2 linked regions of the Homo sapiens genome follow. The protein of the gene in region 1 interacts with the protein of each later gene in a pairwise test. Each region holds a gene or a part of one and is shown on either strand. Other genes may lie near its edges.

Region 1 (3,824 bases):
CGTACTTCATTCCTTTGGCAACAATTCATTGAAACAAACATTGATTGAATATTGTTTACACACCCACTGATATCCTAGATGCGAGGCTAACATCAATGACCAAAGAAAGATTTCTGTCCCCCACCCTCCATGGAGCTTATATTCTAGCAATAAAAACAAAGAAAAAAGTAAACATACTATAGGTAAATTACATAATATTTTTGAAAGTGATTAAGTACTAGGGGCTAACAGAATGGGATAAGGAGAATCTGGGAATCCAAAGAGAGGAGTGGGGGTTCATGATATTAAATAGAAATGACACTGGGGAGAGGCATGAAAGAGCTGTGGGTGCCAGCCAGGAGGATATCTGGGGGAATATCCTTGAAATTAGGGAAACACTCAAAATCCTGAGGCCAGAATCTTCTGGGGCAGCAAAGGGGTCAAGGGCGTTGGAGGCACGTAGTCAATACTAGGAAATGAAGAAGAAGGAAAGTTAACAGAGAGCCAAATCATGTGGGGCTCTGCAGATCATGAAAAGGAACTTGTTTCTAACTCTAAGAAAAATACAAAGCCAATGAAGGATTTGGAGCAAATAAATGATATACTTGGCTTTATGGTTTCAAGGGATCACTGTTTCTAGCAAGGCAAAGAGAAGTTCAACGATAAAAGCTAGAAGCCCAATTAGGAGAGACAAGGTGGATTGGATGAAATGTCATCAATAGAAAGATAAGAAAAGGTCAAAACTGGATATAATAATAGCTTGAAAGTAGAGCCAACATTATTTGCTGATAAATAGGATTCAGGATTGTGAAAGAAAGAAGACTCTTGGTTATTCTAAGGTGTTTGGTCTGGGAATCTGGAAGGATGACATTCCCATCAGCTGACATGAGGAGAAGGTTTGAGGAAGAAGACTGGGAGTTGAGCTTTGGATCTTTACATGCCAGTCTGATGATCAGGAGAGACACCTGGGCTGGAAATACTTATTTCAGGGTTGTGGGCATACAGATATTACTTGAAGTCATAAGAATGTGTGAGATCACAGAAGAAGTACGTATAGATTGAGAAGAGCAGGTGGCAAAGAATTCAGCTCTGGGGCACCAGAACATTAAAAGGTCAGAGACAAGGAGAGGAACCAGGAAAGGAGACTGAGATGGAGAAAGCAAAAGATGGGAGGAAAACCAGCCAAGCAATGTATGCTGGAAGCCAAGTGAGGAAATTCCTGGAAGGAGGAGTGGGCGACTAACTATGCTAAATGCTACTCATAGCTTAAGTTAGATGAGGAACAAGAGTTGACCGTTGTTTTAGCAGGGTGGAAGTTTTCAGTGATCTTAAAGACAGCAGTTACAGAAGGATAGTAGGGAATAAAATAAAGTCTTATTGAAGTGGGTTTGATTCAAACCGGTAGATGGAAATCAGAGAAAGAACATGATGATTCCTTTGAAGGAGTTTAGCTACAGAAGGAAAATACAAATTGTGCCTGTCCCTAGCAGGGAGAAATAATGTCAAGGTTTTCTTGTTTTGTTTTGTTTTGTTTTGTTTTTAAGTTGAGAACAGTAACTGGATGTTTACATGCTGATTAGAGATGGGGCAAGGTAACTCACGCCTGTAACCCCAGCCTTTTGGGAGGCTGAGGCAGGAGGACTGCTTGAGCCCAAGATTTTGAGACCAGCCTGGGCAACATGGCAAGATCCTGTCTCTACAAAAAAAAAAAAAAAAAAGACAAAAATTAGCCAGGGATGGTGGCACACACCTGTAGTCCCAGCTATGTGAGAGGCTGAGGTGGGAGGATTGCATGAGCCCTGGAAGGTGGAGGCTGTAGTGAGCTGTGACCACACCACTGCACTCCCATCTGGGTGACAGAGTGAGACTCGAAAAATATATATATAGCAGAGAGACAAAAATTAAAGTGATGCACTTGTGTGGGGAAAAAAAGAATGGAATCTTATACTCAAGTAGGGAGATCAGCTTTAAAGAAAATCACAAAATTTTCCTATGGTAAGAGGCTAGAAGAAAAAAATACATTGGTACAGATCTAGTCCATTAGTAGTGGAGGTCTGAAAATTCCCTTCTAATGGCTTCAGTTTTCTCAGAAGAGACAGAAAAATCATCAGCAGAGAGTAAGGATGACAGAAGTGGGATTGGTGTTTGAGGATACAATAAAATGGTAAAATAGCTATCCATGGAGGAGGGAAAGTGAATGAATGGAGTAGGAAAGTGGAGTATCAGTGGCTACGTGACTCACTAAGAACACATCATAGAGACTTAGCAGTTGTTTAGAATAGAAGTTTGGACTTTCAGTTGTCAAACTAGTTAGTGGTGGGAGTTCTTACTTCCAAATAATTAGAATTGGTCAAACTTGACAACACATAAAAATCAAGAAGACTTTTTCTAAGCTTCAAGTTCACCAATATTAAGAGCAAGCATCCCAGGAATGCATCCTCACAATGTATGTGATCTGCTGACCTACCATCTGAACACGTTAAGAAAACTAATATTTTGTGCATTAAATGATACTCAGTGTCTCAGTTGTATTCATGGACACTTACTGTCCTACTGTTTATGAATAATATATTTCTACTCCTCTGATCATAGAAAAAGAGGAAGTGCTACTTACCCATGTTCTTGTGGGTTTTATCCCTGCTACAACAGACAAGGTTCCTGAACTACAGAACTGTTTGAAAATAGGAAGGAAAACAGATAAAGGAATATTAAGTCTCAACCATTTTCTTCTTGGTCCTCCCTCAATTAGCAGATATCCAGCAATAGTCATACAAACCTCCCTTTTAAATTCACATCCTAGGACACAGAATTGTACTTGATGCTGCTCACTTTATTTATTTATTTATTTATTTATTTATTTATTTAGTCTTTCCATGCAATTAGTTTTATTCATTTTATTTTTTAAATTTTTTTTATTTCCATACGTTATTGGGGAACAGGTGGTGTTTGGTTACATGGATAAGTTCTTTAGTGGTAATTTGTGAGATTTTGGTGCACCCATCACCCAAACAGTATACACTGCACACAATTTGTAGCCTTTTATCCCTCACCTCCTTCCCACCTTTCCCCCTGAGTCCCCAAAGTCCATTGTGTCATTCTTATGCCTTTGCATCCTCATAGCTTAGCTCCCGCTTATAAGTGAGAACATATGATGTTTGATTTTCCACTCCTGAGTTACTTCACTTAGGATAATGGCTTATGCAAGGATTTAATGACGAAGAAGCCAAAAACAAATGCAATAAAATCAAAGATAAATAGCTGGGACCTAATTAAACTAAGGAGCTTTTGCACGGCAAAAGGAACAGTCAGCAGAGTAAACAGACAACCCATAGAGTGGGAGAAAATCTTCACAATCTATACATCTAACAAAGGACTAATATCCAGAATCTGCAATGAACCCAAACAAATCACCAAGAAATAAACAAACAATCCCATCAAAAAATGGGCTAAGGACATGAATAGACAATTCTCAAAAGAAGATATACAAATGGCCAACAAACATATCATTCACTTTTTAAAAATGAACCATCAGGGAAGTAATAAATAATCAAAACTGAATGAATACATTTTAAAATCACCCCTATTTCTTCTGATTGAATGTTGACCCAGATAATGGAAATGATTCTTCTGACTTTCAGACAGTAATCAGCAGACAAATTTCTTAACTCTCAAGCCAGGACTCTCTGCTGTACCACAAGGCAATTCATCAATACCCATTTTTCATTCAATTTTTTAAGTATCTATAAATGTAACATATAGTTATATATAAGATAATTTTTAGGACTTCATTTGTACTTGGCAAATGTGGTTTCTCTTAATCAGAAAGAGATTTTTGGCCTGGCATC
Region 2 (3,824 bases), on another chromosome or scaffold:
TGTCCAGTTTTGTTCCCTTGCTGGCGAGGAGTTGTGATCCTTTGGAGGAGAAGAGGTATTCTGGTTTTTGGAATTTTCAGCCTTTTTGCTCTGGTTTTTCCTCATCTTCGCGGATTTATCTACGTTTGGTCTTTGATGTTGGTGACTTTTGAATGGGGGTTTCTGCGTGGGCGTCCTTTCCGTTGATGTTGATGCTATTGCTTTCTGTTTGTTAGTTTTCCTTGTAACAGTCAGGCCCCTCTTCTGCAGGTCTGCTGGAGTTTGCTCGAGGTCCACTCCAGACCCTGTTTTCCTGGGTATCACCAGTGGAGGCTGCAGAACAGCAAAGATTGCTGCCTGCTCCTTCCTCTGGAAGTTTCGTCCCAGAGGGGCACCTGCCGGATGCCAGCTGGAGTTCTCCTGTACGAAGTGTCTGTCGACCCCTGCTGGGAGGTGTCTCCCCGTTAGGAGGCGCGGGGTTCAGGGACCCACTTGAGGAGGCAGTCTGTCCCTTAGCAAAGCTCGAGCACTGTGCTGGGAGATCTGTTGCTCTCTTCGGAGCCAGCAGGCAGAAATGTTTAAGTCTGCTGAAGCTGTGCCCACAGCCATCCCTTCCGCCAGGTGCTCTCTCCTAGGGAGAAGGGAGTTTATCTATAAGCCCCTGACTGGAACTGCTGCCTTTCTTTCAGAGATGCCCTGCCCAGAGTGGAGGAATCTAGAGAGGCAGTCTGGCTACCATGGCTTTTCCACACTGTGGTGGGTTCCGCACCCAGTTCAAACTTCCGACTGGCTTTGTTTACACTGTGAGGGGAAAACTGCCCACTCAAGCCTCAATAATGGTGGATGCCCCTCCCCCCACCAAGCTGGAACATCCCAGGTTGACTTCAGACTGCTGTGCTGGCAGTGAGAATTTCAAGCCAGTGGATCTTAGCTTGTTGGGCTCCGTTGGGGGTGGGATCCACAGAGCAAGACCACTCAGCTCCCTGGCTTCAGCCCTCTTTCCAGGGGAGTGAATGGTTCTGTCTTGCTGGCATTCCAAGTACCACTCAGTTGGAAATGCAGAAATCACCCGTCTTCTTTCTGCATTGGTCTTGCTGGGAGCTGCAGACCAGAGCTGTTCCTATTCAGCCATCTTGCCCGGGAATCCCACATTTTCTTTATCTACTCATTAATTGATGGGCATTTGGGCTGGTTTTACATTTTTGCAGTTGGAAATTATGTTGCTATAAACATGTGTGTGCAAGTATCTTTTTCATATAATGACTTCTTTTCCTCTGGGTATATACCTAGTTGTAGGATTGCTGGTCAAATGGTAGTTCTACTTTTAGTTCTTTAAGGCATCTCCACACTGTTTTCCATAGTGGTTGTACTAGTTTACATTTCCACCAGCAGTGTAAAAGTGTTCCCTTTTCACCACATCCGTGCCAACAATATATTTAGAACAAGTATTTGGTCAACTAACACATCATTCTCTATACTGGGCAATAAGTAAATTTCACAGACCATCAGCACTGGGGAACACACTTTGCGAAGCCCTCATGGTGGACTATAGTTAAAGGAACATAGATCTACCTTTCAGCCCTTCCAGATCTGCAGTCACAGCCCTACACTTGTACTTTGCCAATCTTAATAAAGCTTAAAGCCTGGAGTACAAATGAGGCTGAGGACTACAACCAGGTACTTGTTACAGAAGAAACACAGAATACAGAATCCTTGCTTAGGATGAATCCCTGTAATTATATTCCTAGAAATATAAGAAATTGAAATTCATATTCAAAATATAATTGAAACATATAAATGATTACGTGAAATGACTTTATAAAGTAGCTATATAAGTGTTTAAACATACCTGTTACATATGACGAAAAACTGACTTTTTTACTTGCTTTATTATTACTTATAGGTTGTAAATTTAAAGATGTTAGAAGAAATGTCCAAAAAGATACAGGTAGGTATAATATCACGCAACCACACTCATGGGTTTTTTAAATGAATAGCATTGAAAAACTCTCTGTCAAAAAGAACAAATCAGTTTTTTTTTAATATAAAAATAAGTTTTCAATATTGTGTGAAGTTCCAAACTATAGACTTATTCTGATATGTAAAGAGGTATTTGTGAAGACCATCATTTACCTAACCATGGAGTTGCTTTTCACTGATTGTTGTAGTTATATTATACATATAAACTACATTTGAGGTTAGAATGTAGAAGTTGGCATGAAAAAAAGTATGTAAATAGGAAACTGACATATTGCTCCCCCCAGGTCTTTACTGTTCCTTGCAGACTTGACTGTGGTAGTAGAAATTAAACATGAGCTGGGAACTCCAAGTTAGCAGTGAAATTGTGAATCCTGGATGGAAAATTTTGAGAGCCAGCATCTAGATGGAAAAGACAGAATGGGAACTGGTTGTTGCCTGCTCAAGGATGTTCATACCATTATAGCCACAAGTCTAATAATCCTCATAATCTGCCCCAATTTGGAATTTACATATTGCATGATACTAACAAATGTGGATTTTCAAAAGATTTTATTCTGATTGGCCTGGAATGTCTCAAACCTACTAGTCCTACCGATATCCTTATAGTATGGCAAATTAAAATGTATATATTGCTTGATTCTAACTAGTATAGATTTTCTGAATCTTAAAAACTTTTCGTGGTTATTCTAGAACATCAGTTTGCTAATGTACTTTTAAAAATTTATTCCTGGTCAGGTGCAGTGGTTCACACCTGTAATCCCAGCATTTTGGTAGGCCGAGGCGGGTTGATCGCTTGAGCTCAGGAGTTCGAGACCAGCCTGGGCAACAAGGCAAAACCCTGTCTCTGCAAAAAATACAAAAATTAACTGGGCATGATGGCGCGTGCTTGTAGTCCCAGCAACTTGGGAGGCTGAGATGGGAGGATCACTTGAGCCCAGGAGGTCAAAGCTGCAGTGAGCTGAGATGGTGCTGAGATCACAAGGTCTTGCTCTGTCATCCAGGCTGGAGTGCAATGAGCTGAGATTGCATTACTGCACTCCAACCTGGTGGCAGAGCAAGACCCTGCCTCAAAAAAAAAAAAAAAGTATTCCTTACCTACCAAAAAAAGACTTAAAGACAGTAATAGATAGTTGACCCTTATAGTATTTATAAAACTTTTCTGCTTTAGACACACCCACCATGCTAGGAAATTTCTATTTGGAGAACATTTAGGTCATAAGCAAAATATATGTAATTTAAATCATTGGTTCAAAGTCAGTCTTGTACATTTTGGAATGTCATATTCATTTAGCATTTTCTATAAAAACAGTTTCCAATTTTTTTCAAAATACTTTTTTTTCTGCAATGAAATCTTAAATGGAATCCAGTACATAAAACAGGTCAATATGTTTGATTGGAGACCTAGAATCTCCCTGCAGCAGTTCCTGAGATACTTTCTTAGCCCTTTCTCAGAAAGTTGGAAAATCACTGGATAATAAAAATTACCAAATGTGTACAAAAGGCAAATAGATGTATAGTACTGTACATCTCAGGGATTAGTTCATGAGAAGGTACTTTGTACTTAAATAGCTACATGTCCTTGGATTTAAGGGACAGGGAGAGGGCTGGAGTTGGGAGCACTTAGATCATCCAGTTATTTATTTTAAACCAAATGCTCAATAGTTAATATTGCCATAAAGAAGTCCTAGTGTATAGAATGCCTATAGTATTCATATCATTATAATGAGAATAGCTAGGTCACAGAAGTTTAATACAGGTAATGTTTTATTTACTGGCGACCTAGTCTATAAAATTAAATACACAAGGATGTGTTACAGTGCAGATATGAGGGAGAATACTAGCACCTCTGACACCATGGCCATGCT

Evidence for each region.
Region 2: the proteins of MS4A3 (region 1) and CDKN3 interact in a two-hybrid assay, tested with the Homo sapiens proteins (one study listed by BioGRID).

What each region holds. Positions count from the first base shown.
Region 1 is NC_000011.10:60,063,088-60,066,911, reverse strand, and holds part of MS4A3 (membrane-spanning 4-domains subfamily A member 3), read right to left. Parts: intron 2,651-3,824; coding exon 2,594-2,650; intron 1-2,593. UniProt on the Homo sapiens protein: Hematopoietic modulator for the G1-S cell cycle transition. Modulates the level of phosphorylation of cyclin-dependent kinase 2 (CDK2) through its direct binding to cyclin-dependent kinase inhibitor 3 (CDKN3/KAP).
Region 2 is NC_000014.9:54,406,863-54,410,686, forward strand, and holds part of CDKN3 (cyclin-dependent kinase inhibitor 3), read left to right. Parts: intron 1-1,882; coding exon 1,883-1,927; intron 1,928-3,824. UniProt on the Homo sapiens protein: May play a role in cell cycle regulation. Dual specificity CC phosphatase active toward substrates containing either phosphotyrosine or phosphoserine residues. Dephosphorylates CDK2 at 'Thr-160' in a cyclin-dependent manner.